Linked DNA regions of Homo sapiens: region 2 is linked to region 1. Evidence: fine-mapped expression QTL. A gene starts in region 1. The other region holds a variant in brackets. All regions are shown on one strand. Distances are between the middles of the regions. Region 1 holds the start of FEZ2 (fasciculation and elongation protein zeta 2). Region 2 overlaps CRIM1 (cysteine rich transmembrane BMP regulator 1).

What was found.
Region 2: its variant is fine-mapped to the expression of FEZ2 in whole blood (INTERVAL, PIP 0.98).

The regions. Positions count from the first base shown.
Region 1 is chr2:36,594,367-36,602,662 of GRCh38, reverse strand. FEZ2 (fasciculation and elongation protein zeta 2) reads left to right here and starts at 4,495. Exons shown (of 8, transcript NM_005102.3): 1 at 4,495-4,786. The coding sequence starts at 4,521. RefSeq lists enhancers at 1,647-2,572, 3,500-4,426, 4,427-5,354 and silencers at 4,427-4,646, 4,687-5,046.
Region 2 is chr2:36,543,683-36,552,022 of GRCh38, reverse strand. CRIM1 (cysteine rich transmembrane BMP regulator 1) reads right to left here. Exons shown (of 17, transcript NM_016441.3): 15 at 7,525-7,647; 16 at 4,852-5,039; 17 at 888-3,498. The coding sequence ends at 3,322. Among named protein-coding and RNA genes, the nearest start is that of FEZ2, 50 kb to the left of the region's middle. The variant G/C (reference allele first, on the strand shown) is at 3,851.

The DNA of each region.
Region 1 (8,296 bases):
GCTAAAACAGTAAGGTCAAGTTGTTTGGACAGAAAGGCTACCCGGTGTGGTCCTGGCTCTTGTGTAAGAATTCTGACCGCACTAACCATGCCTAGGAAGGAAAGGAGTTGTTCTTTAGTAAGGGATTGAGGTTTGGGAGATTAATCGGACACGATCAGCAGGGAGAGCACGTGTGTTTTTACGAGAATTATGCCGAGATAGGTAACAGATGAGGATGAAATTTGGGCTTGACTGAAGTAATGGGGGCTGTCTGTGAAGCCTTGCGGCAGTACAGCCCAGTCAATTTGCTGAGCCTAATGGGTGTCAGGGTCAGTCTAAGTGAAGGCAAAGAGAGGCTGGGATGAAGCGTGCAAAGGAATAGTAAAGAAAGCATGTTTGAGATCCAGAACAGAATAATGGGTAGTAGAGGGAGGTATTGAGGATAGGAGAGTATATGGGTTTGGCACCACGGGGTGGATAGGCAAAACAATTTGGTTGATAAGGTGCAGATTCTGAACTAACCTGTAAGCCTTGTCTCGTTTTAGGAGAGGTAAAATGGGGGAATGGTAAGGAGAGTTTATAGGTTTTAGAAGCCCATGCTGTAGCAGGCGAGTGGTAACAGGCTTTAATCCTTTTAAAGCATGCTGTGGGATGGGATATTGGCGTTGAGTGGGGTAAAGGTGATTAGATTTTAATGGGATGGTAATGGGCATGAGATCGGTTGCCAGGGAAGGAGTAGAGATGTCCCATACTTGTGGGTTAAGGTGGGGGGATATGAGAGGAAGACACGAAGGAGGCTTTGGGTTGGGGAGAAGGGCGGCAATGAGATGTGGCTGTAGTCCAGGAATAGTCAGGGAAGCAGATAATTTGGTTAAAATATCTCGGCCTAATAAGGGAACTGGGCAGGTGGGGATAACTAACAAAGAGTGCATAAAAGAGTGTTGTCCAAGTTGGCACGAGAGTTGGGGAGTTTTAAGAGGTTTAGAAGCCTGGCCGTCAATACCCACAACAGTTATGGAAGCAAGGGAAACAGGCCCTTGAAAAGAAGGTAATGTGGAGCAGGTAGCCTCCGTATTGATTAAGAAGGGACGGACTTAACCTCCACTGTGAGAGTTACCCGAAGCTTGGCATCCGTGATGGTCTAGGGGGCTTCCGAGGCGATTGGGCAGTGTCAGTCTTCAGCCGCTAAGCTGAGAAGATCTGGGAAGGAGTCAGAGAGCCTTGGGCCAGAGTTCCAGGGGCTCTGGAAGTGGCTACCAGGTGAGTTGAACAGTCCGATTTTTCAGTGGGGTCCCGCACAGATGGGACACGGCTTAGGAGGAATCCTGGGCTGTGGGCATTCCTTGGCCTGGTGGCCAGATTTCTGGCACTTGTAGTAAGCTCCTGGGGGAGGAGGTTCTGGAGGAACCCCTGGCCGCTGCGGTTCGGGCGTTTGGAAGTTCTTGTGTGCTGGAGATGTGGCTGGGGTTTGTCTCACAGTGGAGGCAAGGAATTGCAACTTTATTCTATTATCGTACACCTTGAAGGTGAGGTTAATTAAGTCCTGTTGTGGGGTTTGAGTGCCAGATTCTAATTTTTGGAGTTTTATTTAATGTTGGGAGCAGATTGGGTAATAAAATGTATATTGAGAATAAGACGGCCTTTTGACCTTTTAGGGTCTAGGGCTGTAAAGCGTCTCAGAGTTGCTGCCAAACGAGCCATGAACTGGGCTGGATTTTTATATTTGATGAAAAAGAGCCTAAATGCTATCTGATTTGGGATAAAGAAAAAGGAGCATTAACCTTGACTATGCCTTTAGCTCTAGCCATCTTTTTAAGAGTAAATTGCTGGGCAGGTGGGGAAGAGCTAGTCGCGGAACTAAACTGTAAGCCAGACCAGGTGTGAGGAGGGGAGGTGATAGAAGGATTATAGGGTGGAGGAGTTGGGGCTGAGGAAGAATTGGGACTTAGCTCGGCCTGGCGACGAGCAGCCTGGGGAGGAGGGGAAAGGTCAGATGGGTCTGTAGAAAAGGAAGACTGGAAAAACTCAGCGACGCTTGGGGTTGGGACTGAGGGGATAGGCAGGAGGGAAAGGAGGATCTGGGAGGAATCGCATTGGGAACAGAGGCTAGGGAGGGAGTGAAGTGTGAAAAATGCCTGGACGTAAGGCACCTCAGACCATTTGCCCATTTTTCTACAAAAATTATTTAGGTCTTGTAGGATGGAGAAATCGAAAGTGCCCTTTTCTGGCCATTTAGAGCCATTGTCAAGTTTGTATTGGGGCCAAGTGGTGTTGCAGAAGAAAATAATGCATTTAGGTTTTAGGTCAGGTGTGAGTTGAAGAGGTTTTAAGTTCTTGAGGACAGGCTAAGCGAGAAGGAGGAGGAATGGAGGATGGAAGGTTGCCCATAGTGAAGGAGGTAAACCCAGAGAAAAGAGAGCGTAGAGACATGGAGGGAAGGGGTTCGGGGTTGTTACCCTCCAGAAAAGCGGGAAGGGGGGTTGGGGCACGGAAATAAGGGATTGGGGCACAGAGATAAGAGATTGGGGTGTGGAAATAAGGGATTGGGGGTTCTTGCCACCTAGAAAAGCGGGACTTGCCGCTAAGGGTGAAGGAGAAGGGGTTGAGGGGTTCTTGCCCCTGCCCCAGAAAAATCACAGAAGGGGTAGAGACAAGGAGAGAAGGGGTTGGGGTACTCGCCCCTTCCTCAGAAAAGCGGGACTTGCCGCTAAGGGTGAAGGACCAAGGCAGGCGTCCCTGCGTGGTCTGACACCTTTGAAACGTGGGTGAATAATCAGAGGCGTCCCTGCAATGATTAAACACCAAGGGAAGGCTGCCTTCCCAGCCCGTGACCGGCGCCGGAGTTTTGGGTCCACGGATAAAACGTGTCTCCCTTGTCTCTACCAGAAAATGAAAGGAACTGAAATTAAGAGAAGGGAGAGATTGAAGTGCGGCGCCAAGATTGAAAGGAGAAAGAGGTTGAGGGATAGTGAGGGAAGCTGGAGAAGACAGTAAAAAGAGGCCGCTTACTGGATTTGAAATTGGTGAGATGTTTTTTGGGCTGGTCGGTCTGAGGACCTGAGGTCGTAGGTGGATCTTTCTCATGGAGCAAAGAGCAGGAGGACAGGGGGATTGATCTCCCAAGGGAGGTCCCCCGATCCGAGTCACGGCACCAAATTTCATGTGCGTCCGTGTGAAGAGACCACCAAACAGGCTTTGTGTGAGCAACACGGCTGTTTATTTCACCTGGATGCAGGCGGGCTGAGTCCGAAAAGAGAGTCAGCGAAGGGAGATGGATTATCATTAGTTCTTACAGGTTTTGGGTCAGGCGGTGAAGTTAAGAGCAATGTTTTGCGGGCAGGGGTGGATCTCACAAAGTACATTCTCAAGGGTGGGGAGAATTACAAAGAAACTTCTTAAGGGTGGGGGAGATTACAAAGTACATTGATCAGTTAGGGTGGGGCAGGAACAAATCACAATGGTGGAATGTCATCCTTAAGGCTATTTTTACTTCTTTTGTGGATCTTCAGTTACTTCAGGCCATCTGGGTGTATATGTGCAAGTCACGGGATGCGATGGCTTGGCTTGGGCTCAGAGGCCTGACAGCTAGATTTTGTATTTTTAGTAGAGACGGGGTTTTACCATGTTGGCCAGGTTGGTCTTGAACTCCTGACCTCAAGCGATCCGTCCACCTGGGCCTGCCAAAGTGCTGGGATTATAGATGTGAGCCACCTCGCCTGGCCTACTCCAATTTTTTTGTATTGTAGTAAAATAAACATAAAATTACTATCTTAACCATCTGTAAGTGTATAGATCAGTGGCATTCAGCACATTAACACTGTCGTGGAACCATCACCACCATCCATCTCCATAACTCTTTTCATCTTGCAAAACTGAACCGCCCAATCACACTTAGTTTTTATGAGGTCTAAACAATTTCTTGTTACTCTTATCACTCCGACATTGTAAGCCCTGTGTATGGGGCACCCATGTATTAGTTATAACATACACATAGGGTATCTACTATTAGGCATTGCTCTAAGTGCTTTGCAAATGTTAACTGGCATAATTATCTTTGTATGTTCTGCAGGATCTAGCCAGTGCTTTGCACGTGAGAGGTAAAATATTTGAGGAATGAACTTCGGTACCACCTAAACATTTCCCATTGACTCTGGCTGTTATTCTGGTTGGCAAGTTAGGAAAGGAGCAGGTTACCTTGGGGAAAACGACTTTCGGGGCGTAATCTGATATTAGGTCGTAAGTTTAAAGAAGTCCTTTATTTTAGCCACATTTAGGCCAAGTTGCTAATAAGGGAAGCTAACAGGGAAGTTATTCCTAAATGATAGAGAATATAGGAAGTGACTCAAGGCAGTTAAGGTCTTGGCTTTCTAGTAGCACCGCGTTCAACTCCAGGAAGACTCAGGCCACCGGAGACCCAGGGTTGGGACAGCCTGGGATCTGTCAGCACGGTAGCGGGCGGGGGCGGGGCTTCGGGCCGGGGCGGGGCCGGGCTGGGCGGGCTGGGCCGGCCTGGGCGGGGCGCGCGACTGCTCCGGGCGGCGATGGCGGCGGACGGGGACTGGCAGGATTTCTATGAGTTCCAGGAGCCGGCCCGGAGCCTCCTGGACCAGGAGAACTGTAACGCGAGCCCCGAGCCTGGGGCGGAGGCGGGGGCCGAGGCGGGTGGGGGCGCCGACGGTTTCCCGGCCCCGGCCTGCAGCTTGGAGGAGAAGCTGAGCCTGTGCTTCCGCCCCTCGGATCCGGGCGCCGAGCCCCCGAGGACGGCCGTGCGGCCCATCACGGAGCGCAGCCTCCTGCAGGGGGACGAGTGAGTGCGGGGCCCCGGCCGGGAGTGGGCGGGAGCCTCCCCTACCCCTCGCCCGACCGGCAGCCCTACGGCCGCAGCTCCTCCCTGCGCCCTCCTTCCGCCCGGACGCGGGAGTCCCCGCCCTCTCGCCTCCTTCCTCCGGCCGTCGGCCTCGGCTCGCCCAGCAATTTAAATCCCCTGCCCCCCGCCGCCACGAGCCCTGAAAACCTCCGCCTCGGTACCTCCCGCCCTCCTTCCTGCAAACCAAACCCTCGTTTGTATTAGAAGGGAATCGCCCATGCAGAGCCCATAGTTAGAGACGGCACCTCCTGGGGCACCTCCTGGGGCACGTGTGTCGCCATTCATTCACTCAAGTCGCATTTATTAAGCACCTGCTGAGTGCCAGGCGCTGCTTCGCACAGGGAACACCAAAACGACTGGGCACTGTCCCTCCCACTTAGGACACAACGTAGGATGGGAGATAGATTTGTAAACAAATACATGTATGGATGTAATTAGCGCTGCAATGGTTATATGTACCAAATGTGAGAGACTTAAAAGCGTGTGTCTTGGGGAGAGTAAGGAACGACTTTATAAAGAAATGTGCAAACGAGATCTGACTGATGAGTGGGAGTGTGCCTGGCAGGTGGAAAAAAGTCTAACGTTCTAGGTGGAGTATATTGCCTGTGCATAAGTACCAACGTGCGAGGCAGCATTTAGGGCACAGGAATCTGTGGGACCCACCCGGGAGCCCTGGTAGAGTGCGAGCCGCCACAGAGACGAAAACGAAGGGCCCTGCTTACTGATGGTAACGATCGCATGGTCTGGTGGGGAGACCAAGGCATACACAAGTAATATTAATAATTACAGAATCACCTAAGAGCAATGATAGGAGGTTCACGGGGTTTTATCACAGCTGGGAGAGGTGAGGCGCAGAGTTCCTGAGGGCACTTTTTAAACCACCTGAGCCGCAATTATAATTTGGTTAAGTAAGAGTTGTAATTAGGTACCATGGTTTTACCCCCAAAAGATGGTAAATAGGAATGGTGAGAGTAAAGGGACTTGAGCATGTTGTGTATATAGGGGGAGAGGAGCCTCCGGAGAGGCTGAAGGTAAAATGAGTGGAATAAGATTGGGCGCGGTGGCTCACACCTGTGATCCCAGCACTTTGAGAGGCTGTGGTGGGAGGATGGCTTGCTTCCAGCAGTTCGAGACCAGACTGGGCAATATCGTGAAATCTGGTCTTTACAAAAAAATTAAAAAAAAATTAGTGAAGTCCGGTGGCGCATGCCCGTGGTCCCACGGACCCAGCTGCCCGGAGGCTGAGATGGCAGGATTGCTTGAGTCCTGGAGGCGAAGGTTGCAGTGAGCCATCATCGCACAACTGCACTCCAGCCTGGGTGTCAGAGCGAGACTTTGTCTCAAAAATGAGGACATGGGAAGGAATGGATTTTCAGAGCATTGATGGGATGGAGAGACTCTTAGAGGTTAGGGAAGAATTTTTGAGAGACAGGACAGGAGTCACGGGCACGGAAAGGAGTTTCCAGCCTGATTGTCTCCTTTCCTTTGTGAAACAAACAGATTTATCAGGAATAAGGTAGGAAGCTTGTAAAGACAGCCTTGGGAGTGGGGCCTGTAAACATGGCTGAGCAGTGGTGCAGGCCCACCTGTGTTTGGAGACCATCTCCTTTTATTGGTTCCTCAGTACAGTGTTCTGCCCAGGTGTAGAGAAGGGAAACACTTATAATTGGATTTTATACACACATGCATGCCGTCAGTAGCAAAAGATGACATTTTTGGAAGCCTGTTCCCAAAGAGAAGATAATTTTATGTATATGTAGATTTAGATACTCTGAATCACTAAACCCAGGACACATTCTGGATTTAAAAATTAGTGTAGATGTATTATGTATTTGGGTTTTTCAAGAGTAGCTGACTTAAATCAATTAGAGGATTGTACGTAGATCGTTAAGAGTTTTTGTTTCACTTAGACCGTCAGGAGAGTAGGTTATTTTAGCCTTTGCTTAAAAATATTTTGTCGCTCTTGTTAATGGTATTTAGTAGATGATATGTTGGTGGTAATGCATGTCTCTTGACTTGGGAATGCATATGAAATCTCTTTTTTTCCGGGAGTTGGGAGCTGGTCATCACTGGCATTGTCCCTTTTATATTGCAAAAACATACTCATCATTGCTTGATAGTCTGTTCCAGTTCCCTTTTCACTAGATATAATTGATAATTGTTTTACTCAGATATTGCTGTGCTTTAGGTCAAGGGGTCCCCAACCCCTGGTCCACAGACCGGTACTGGAACTGGGCCACACTACAGGAGGTGAGTGGCTGAGTGAGTGAGCAAAGCCTCATCTGTATTTACAGCTCCTCCCCATTGCTTGCATTACCACCTGAGCCACCTCCTGTCAGATCAGCCACGGCATTAGATTCTCATAGGAGCGTGAACCCTATTGTGAACTGCACAAGTGAGGGTTCTAGTTTGCAGACACCTTATGAGAATCTAATGCTTGATGATCTGTCACTGTTTCCCCTCTCCCCCAGATAGGACCATCTAGTTGCAGGAAAACAAGCTCAGGGCTCCCATTGATTCTACGTTATGGTGAGTTGTAAAATTATTTCATGATATATGACAGTGTAATAATAGAAATAAAGTACACCGTAAATGTAATGTGCTTGAATCACCCCAAAGCCCTCCCCGACCCTTGGCACTTCATTTAACTTCTCTGAGCCTCAGCTTTTGTTTTGGTTAAATATGGATTGTATTTACGTACTGAGGTTTTACTTATAAGAGTATTCTGCAGGATTCGATGTTGGCAGGACTTTGACCTCCTTGCAAAAGAGCTGTCCTGACCGTTGTTTACGACTGGTTGTAATACTTGGTGATAAAGATGAAGGCAGTTCATATGTCTTGACTGCAGAATTCTAGAAATCTTTCACTAGAGTTGCCTCTGTGTCCTTCCAACTACCATTGTTTTGACCTTGGTGGAGACTGTTAGTTGGCTTTCATTTTCTTGGAAGATCAAACTCACTGACAGGCACTTCTAAGTGAAATATTCCATCCCATTTGCCTTTTTCTTATAGCCTTGTTTAAGAAGGAGCAAATCAGCAGACAAAGCAAACTCCTCAAATTCTGGACTGTCTTCACCTGCTAGTGTATCCTGCTTAAATTCCTGCCAGGATTAGGTCTATAGTCAGTGATACGGTTTGGCTGTGTCCCCACCCAAATCTCAACTTGAATTGTATCTCCCAGAATTCCCACGTGTTGTGGGAGGGATCCAGGGGGAGGTAATTGAATCATGGGGGCTGGTCTTTCCTATGCTATTCTCATGATAGTGAATAAGTCTTACAAGATCTGATGGGCTTATCAGGGGTTTCCGCTTTTGCTCCTTCCTCATTTTCCCTTGCTGCCGCCATGTAAGAAGTGCCTTTTGCCTCCTGCCATGATTCTGAGGCCTCCCCAGCCATGTGGAACTGTAAGTCCAATTAAACCTCGTTTTCTTCCCAGTCTCGGGTATGTCTT
Region 2 (8,340 bases), 51 kb after region 1:
ATTTCAAAAACAGCCATGCAGACCCCTCCCATAGACGACATGAATGAATTAAGAGTCTATATAGGACCTGCTACAGGCGGCTTTCACAATTCCACTTAAACACCTGTGAGCAAAACAAACAGGGCTAACATATTCCTCACTCCACTCAGCAACTGAGACACCATGACTGCAAAGGCAGGGGCGCGGTTTGAAGTTTAATGCCTGCTTGGCATTTCAGCCATCATCTCTAGGGGTATGAGAAACTCGAGATGGTTTCCTTGTTTTATTAATGTTCTTATTTGGAACTTACTGGCCCTTTCCCCAGATACATGTACTTACACAGTAATATTAATAATTTAAATTAATTTGAATTTGTAAAAATGACGCCTTGTACTGAAGAAATGTAGCTTTAAAGGGTATATGATATAGTAGAAAGTCCTTAGGGGGATATATTTTTTTAAAGGAGATTCAACATTGGTCTGTTTATAGCTCATTCTTAAATTGATGCTTCTAAAATGTATGAAAATATACCTATTTATTTTTTCCTGTCAGCTCAAAAAGTCTCTTTGCAGTTAGGCTTCCCCTGATCGTGCTCGGTAAAGTCTTTCTTCTTCAGCATCGAACCACTGTAGGATTTCCCACCACAGTCCTCCTGTGCGTAGCAAGTTAATTTTGATACCAGCTATGAGCACGTTTCTGACAGCAGGTAGGTTTCTTGTCTCCCTAAAAACAGCATCGCTATTCTCTGTACTCTGGGAGACACTTTTCTTTTTGCAAGGATACCTTGGGAAAGACCCGCCTAATGACAAAAGCACGGGACTTCTTGTTACACCAGGGGTTCATTGGACTGATAACCTTAAAAGTCTTTCGGATCTCAGAGATGGAATCTTTTTGCAAGTTACACTGTGTGATTTCAACTCAAAATGTTTATTTCCTGCCAAGAATCAAGTTGCAGATAATTCTCTTACAGCTTTTTTGAAGAAAACAAAAACAAACTGTAGAACTATGATGCACTCCAAGTGCCATATATCTATTTTATTCTTCAGGAAATTATATTTTTCTTTTACAAGAGCACAACAGGAACCAAAGTAAAAGAGTAATAGATACAGCACTCAGGATAAATCATATCTTTAAAATAATAATAAAAAAATTTACACCTTGTCCTATATCCTGTTAGTATTTTCATAATATGGCCATGATTGAAAAAACAAAAAGCAAGCATCTACAATTTTTTTTGATAAAGACTTTTTATGCCAGGAATGGATTAATTACCAACAAAATTTATACTAATCAGGCTGATGTCAATCTATTTTTGTAATGTATCATTAACAAATTTATTTTGGAAAAGATAAAAATATTGCCCCTTGATAATAAATCTTTTTTTCCTTTGATGCAAACAGCTAGAACACCTTTTTCTTTTTCTTTTTGATATTCTAAGACAAAAAAATGGTTAATCTTCAGATTAATAAATTAGGTCATTATAATAATAAATTAATTTTTTTTAAAGTTCAGCAACCTCTGTCCAAGTATTTACAACAATACTTGAAAGTTCCTTTACAAAACAGAACACATTTTCTTTTCACGTTAAGCATACTGGGTATCTGTGTCTTTCACAACAAGCATTTTTAAAAGAAAACTCAATGCACAAATGGGTTAATTAGTATAAAAGTGCTAAGGGCTGTTTGAAAAGTTACCACTATAGTATACAGTCAGTTATATTTGAGGCATACTACAACAAACTTCCAGCTTATTGTGGACAATATTCCAGTAGTTGTTTCAAACCATTGTTTGAAAAAAAAAAAAAAAAAATCCAGGAGCTGATTAGTGATGCAGATAAGAACTGCCATCAATGTCTCTGGCCAGTGAGCAAATTGAAAACCAACTGAAAGCAAATCCAAATGAGGAAGATTTTAATAAAGGAATACCCTTCTCCATAGCAGGTGCAATGCTGACTGCTCAAGGCGTGCGTGCGCGCGCACACACACACACACACACACACACATACATACTCTCACACACACATCTTTCCAATTAAACTGCAGGTAGAATGAGATTTTGTGTTATTCAAAAAATTTGTAAGTGATCAAAAGCACTGCTATGGAATGCCTGTTTATCTGCCTTTGTTCTGGTTAAAATCTCATAAAAATACATTCAACAGGAAAACATAAATTGTATGTGTATAAATATATATGTATATATATATATTATATACACATGCACACAAATACTTTTGTTTTTTGAAGCATAAGATAGTTACATAAATACTCCTATAATTGCTAAAGTTTAAAGAGGCATCATTTTTTTTGAGCTTCAACAAAGGTGCTTGAATAATATACAATTAAAATGAAGTAGTTTCTATTTTGTAGAATCAGTATATAATAAGGAAAAAGAATCCCCAAACAGTCTTTTTAAAAAAAGTTTCTTCTTAAGCTAGAGCTTCAACAAAAACTATGAACAACCAACAATATAACAGAACAAAGCAACAACAAACAGTGAAATATAGCCCCTGGAAATGCCTGGTGTTCGTCACCCTCTCCCTCCTCTTCCTGTCACGTTGTAAAAAAAAAAAAGCTCCAGTGCTCACATCAAGAAATGACTTAGATCTTGTTCATGTGCTGACTCTGCTAGGAACTGGCTGATTGATTGGCTTGGAAGAAAATAAAAGCAGCAAAAAGTGTAACTGTATATATCCTTAATAACCCGCTTTAGAGAAATGCCGCTATCGCATTTCTCTGGCTTCCTCACTGCCTACTGCAGTTGTGACTGTATAGAAAAGAAACTTGTGGCTTTAGACCTGGGATGGCTGTCAAAGGGTTCTGATGTGCTCGTCTGGTAGTTCTAAGGTGGTTATGGCAGCTGGGTCGCAAGGCCTTTTTTGTTTCCTGCTCATTCAGGCCTGAGCTTTGCAGCAACCAGTGCAGTCTTCAGAGCAATAGGAAAAAAATAACCTCTGGGCCACTGAACTGCTTTTATGTTACCAGGTTTCTCCCCGAGCCAAGCTGACCAATTTTTCTTCCCAACACCACCCTCCCACCCATTTCCCCATCCAAACTCACTGTCCCCACCCCAAATATCTCTACAGCTATCTTACAGGCAAATATATCTTAGCAACTTTAAAAACTTTGGTTCTAAGAAAACACTTGGTCAGTTATCTTGAGGAAAAGTGGGAATGCTTGTTCTGCACATTGCTGTAGACAGAGCCCATCCCAGTAAGGTCTTAGCGCTGTACATCAAGTCACAATCCAATACAATCCACTAAGCAAGTGCACAAATTCTAGTTTACTTTTTAGAGCAGATTTAGTCGTCTTCCGTCTTTTGAAACCTCATCCTAGTTGCCTTTCTTCACACTGTTTGGTAGAAATTGTCTGCCTGTAGATGGTTCTGTTTTTGCATGCTGTAGAAGCCACTGAATCTTGCATCTGGTTCTGCAATTCTTAGCATTCTCTGGGAACTGTCCACCTGGACTCTGGTTCCTTTCTTGCAGTCCACAGATACTAGCTGATTATTTAAGGAAGAAGGCTATTTAATGAGAGGAGGAATAAAACCACAAAAAATTAGTTGCTTTACATTATCTCAAATGAACAGAAATTTAGTACCTAACTCAGGTGAGATAACAGTTTCACAATTCATTGATTGATAGCCTGTATGCAGATTATCACATCTTGTTCTAGTACCAACTATACTTTTATGAGGGACACTGACAAACTGTATTTTAAGGTGAAATGTCAAGAAACTGTCAAATAGGGAGATGAAGGAACTGAAAAAAAAAAAAAAAAGACTGGTGAAATGATTTCAAATCCTTGAAGTGCAGACCTTGTGTTTCAAGGGGGCTGAAGAATGAGTGGAAGGTAGGCAGATTTTAAAAACAAAG[G/C]GATGACTTCTAACCACTCAGACTGTACAACACTATCATAGGCTGGGCCAGCCTGTGTGTTGCTAGTCACTCCATACACTTTATGAGCGGGTCTGTTTCCCAGCTTTGGACACTGGCAACTGTATCCTGACCCAGCACAGAGGCTGTGCCCAATGTACATTTGTTCAAAGAAAAATCGGAGGCAGGATAACCGCAGGACAGAATTTTTACATGGAAGGGTTAACCAGATGGTAAATTACATTACATAATTGTTCAGGCTGTTTCCAATTCTTAAGGTTTATGATTAAAATAAACCAACTCAAGGCAAAAGGTAGAATTAGAGTTGGAAGGGATTATGATTTATTTCCCTTAATTAATACAGTTTTTTCTTGTCTTTCAAAATAGGCAGATTTAGAGGCCCTTTATGTTTGTACTGAAAACAAACATACATCTTTTCTCCCTTAGTGTGAAATCTGCCTCTCCCTACCTTGTCTACTATTACTTTCCACCACCTCTTCATCTTTTGCGACCTTTCCACTTGGTGCTTGCCTTTGGTGCACTGACCTGTTCCTTTTGCCTTTTGTATACCCTCATGATCTTCCAGCCCTCTCCTGAGTATTATCTCCATCCCTTTGGGACTTTTTTTCTCTCCCAATTCTAAGTTGACTGATGACTAAGAAATGCCAGGTGATCACGTTTTAATGTCTAATATAAACAATGATTTAGGAATAAATCCAGGAGTATTTGTTCATTTGAAAACTTCAGAGTACATCGAGAAAACTGGATCCATGTAAGGTTAGGCTTCATTAACCAATGGATAATGGATAATTCACCTTGTGATCAGTCCAGCCCTGGGCAAGTACTATGTATTTGATTCATACTATAGCCTGGTATGGATTTGAGGCTATGAAGAGCAAAGTAAAAACTTCACTGGTTAAGACACAAGGTTTCAAGCAATTTCAATATGAGTGTAAGTTTTCCTAGATTCATCATTCAAGAGACTAACTTTTGCAAGACAGTACCTTAGTTGGTGTTCGATACCAGCAAAGCAGTGGTATCCACTGTTTCTTCTGATTGATGAATAGGAATGCTATTATAATAGAGAGGCATATAATTATGGGAACCACAACTGAGGCAATGGAGTCCAGTGAAGAATCTTCACTTGGGTGCAGCCTGTTATCTCTGTAATCTACCTGGAGGTGACCCATATCTAGGAGAAAAAAAATTATAAGCATTTATTACCTAAACCAGAATTGTTAAGGATTATTTTAATGACATTGCAAATAGAGATCAGCAACTTGGTTTTATTGCTTCCCAGTTTTTTGAGGCTAAAAATGTGATTAAAATCTAATGTTGATCCAAAGAGCTCTTAGTAGAGAGCAGAGCGCTTAGGGATGAATGTTAAAAAAAAAAAAAAAAAAAAAAAAAAATCAGAGTGAGAATCTTAATAATTGGGTAAGATGATGCCGGCTCTAGCTAATCAAGGAAATAAGAAGGTGCTTAGGTAGATTTTGAAAAAGTGAATTAGACCATGAAAATATTTTGATTACTGTTAACATACATGGTCTTCTCAGATTTCGAAGGAGAAACATTAGCTGATTTATTGGCAAACAGGAGACTAGAACAAAGTATGTTCTTTTACTATTAATTAATTAGTGTTAATAGCTAAGACTAATTAGATTAAAACTAATCAATCAGGAAGTTGGTCTTTTGGTTGATACTCTGGTTCACTGAACTCTAAGCAATATTGTCTTACTTTTCATAAACTTGTTGAAAATCTTGCTTAGGCCTATTAGATCATTTTTCTGCCTTAATGAATTATATCGCATAGGTGACTACATTTAGTTTTGCACTTATGAATGATGACCTTTATGTTCTTTTAAAATATCTCTCTTACAATGAATGTTGCAGACAAAAATAAGGTTAAACACATACCAATAGGGGGCACTCCCTAAAGTTTCCTTATTTTTATATTCTGTTTTGTTTCAAATAAATCATTGTAGTCAGGTTTTCTAAATGCATTAAAAATCAATTTAGTTAAAGACACATGACACACAGTATCAAAAGGAGTTACTCCTAAATTGTTCTGGAAATTCAGCTCATGAAGTGACAGAGCTTTGTGGTATGTAACACTGTGGTTTAAAACTCAGATTTTAAATGATATGCTTCTGTGTGTGTTCTGGAGGGGTGGTGGGAGCAGGGAGGAATGGGAGGTAGAAAACATTCCTAATCATTTTAGCCAGTGCAGATGGCAATAAAACTTTATAGAAACATATTTTCCAGCATCAAGAAAAATGTCAAAGAGTAACATTTTATTGATGAATTCAGATTTTAAATATACAATGAATAAAAGAATGAATTTTACTTTCCCATATTCCAAATCAAATAGAAAGCAGTTTTAGGAATATGTGTCATACAAGAAGAATAAGATATAAATTAAGGAAGGTCTTGGTGAAAGAAAAATGAAGCTGCAAGTGAGGTCTGTTTACAAAATTCAGTCTTCCAGTTCTGTTTCTGTGCTAAAACCAAGCCATCAAAGTTAGCTTTGAGCTTTGTAGCAGCCAAAGCCAAAAACGGAAACAACTATCAGTCTTTAATACGATTCACAATGTCTTTTAGGTTAAAACAAATCAGTTGCCTAGGAGAAGCATACATTTTCTTGCTATTGATGCATGAGAAAATTTCTCTTTAGGGGCTTTATAACATAGATACTATGCAATGCACAGGTCTTCAGTCATAAGAATAGTCGTACTTACAGTATGTTGAAGTCTAGCCTCTAGAACAGGGTCTGGCATACAGCAGGCACTAATATTTACTGACTGAATGAATGTAAGCATAATGCTAAAGCACACTCAGAACAATTATACAGAGAGCCAAAAACACTAGGTCCAGGAATTTGACTTTCTGGTCATCTGGTTTGATCCAAGCATAACGTTTAGAATATCTAGAGTAACAGACAATTAATCTCTCTCAAGCAATGAATATTGCTTCTTCCAAAAGAAATATAAGTTATATAGCAATGATTTGGAAAATATGGTTGGAGGACACAGGAGGCAGTACTGAGTCACGGCTAAGAGCAAGTTTATACTACTGATCAAGAAGAGGTCTACTTTTATAGAAAAGGAAATAGTGACAGCTATTGGGAGACAAAATAACATCTTTATTACGCACAGACTGAAAGGATAGAGCAAGATAAAAAGGCATGGAGTAAACCTGGTGACTAGAAAAATCAACATAGGTGATAAGTTTAGCTCACATGAAGTGAAAACTGCCCAGAAGTAGAGGGTAACCTAATGTACAAATGCTCAGTGCGGAATCTACAAGAGACAGTGACTAATTCATGATTACTCTCCTTACAAAGTTTATATATACATACGTTTGAGAGATGGCTTAGAAGTTCCAGATACCAGGCTCTTATGACTAGGAACATATTTATTTCCATTTATTTCCGTCATCACAAAGTCTCTGAGCACAGAGGGCCAGGAAGGAGGCATTTAATCCAGTTACCTGCTGACTTATTTTATCAATGTGTGGTGTAAATATGTTTCAGCCAAGCAGGTCTGCCCGGGAATAGTTATTTGAATTTACTTCAGCAAGTCATTTTAAAAGTTACTCATAGGAAATTTTAAAAATTAGAAAACACCTAAGTAGACCACATAGAAAACTAGCAGATCTCAGCTGCCTTCAATGCTTACCTCTAGGGAGATGGACGATATCATTTTCACTAGGCGTGGGCCACAGGGGAACCTCCAGGTCAACCTCTCCTCGATGGTTTGTCTTCTCAATGGGTATATTGGTTGGTTCTGGGACATACATTTCTAAAAGAAGGGAACATTTTTCCTAAGAGATGATGAAGCTGCTGTATTGTTGGCTTTTGTATTCTCAATCCAAATGGTGCACTCAATTCAAGACCACATTTCCTGGGACATGAAAGATGCAGTTTCTGCCATTTACATCATTCATCACTCATGCTAGAGAATCACGAGCTTTGCAGTGAGGAGAAACATGTCTTATAACATTTAAAAGATGAAAGAATTCTCTACTCCACCAGGGTCAAAAACTGCTTTTTCACGTCAAATGGTGTTGGTTTTATAATTTTATGGAAACTGAAGGGGACTAGCTGAAGTTATTTATTACTTTCCAGCAGCTAATAAATGTTGGTGTTTAATAGCTGCTGCTCTTTAATATGGGGGTATTGAATAACTTACATAAAATATGTTAGCAAAACTTGAAAAAGTTAAAGCACTGTCCACTTCTTATGGACTTCTTGGCCATTTCCTCTCCTTTCTCTTCCCCTAAATGGGAATGGACTGTAGGTAGACCTCATGAGTATAAGTCTCAGATGTCCATTATGTTACCACTGGAACCATTTAGATTAGAAGCTGATCTTCAGTAAATATATTTACATTATCCAGTTTGATCAGATAGGTATTATACTACAACATAAAACAAACAGAAGAATATTATTTATCTCAAATATCAGGTCTTTTTAAAAAAAAAAAAAATCAGAA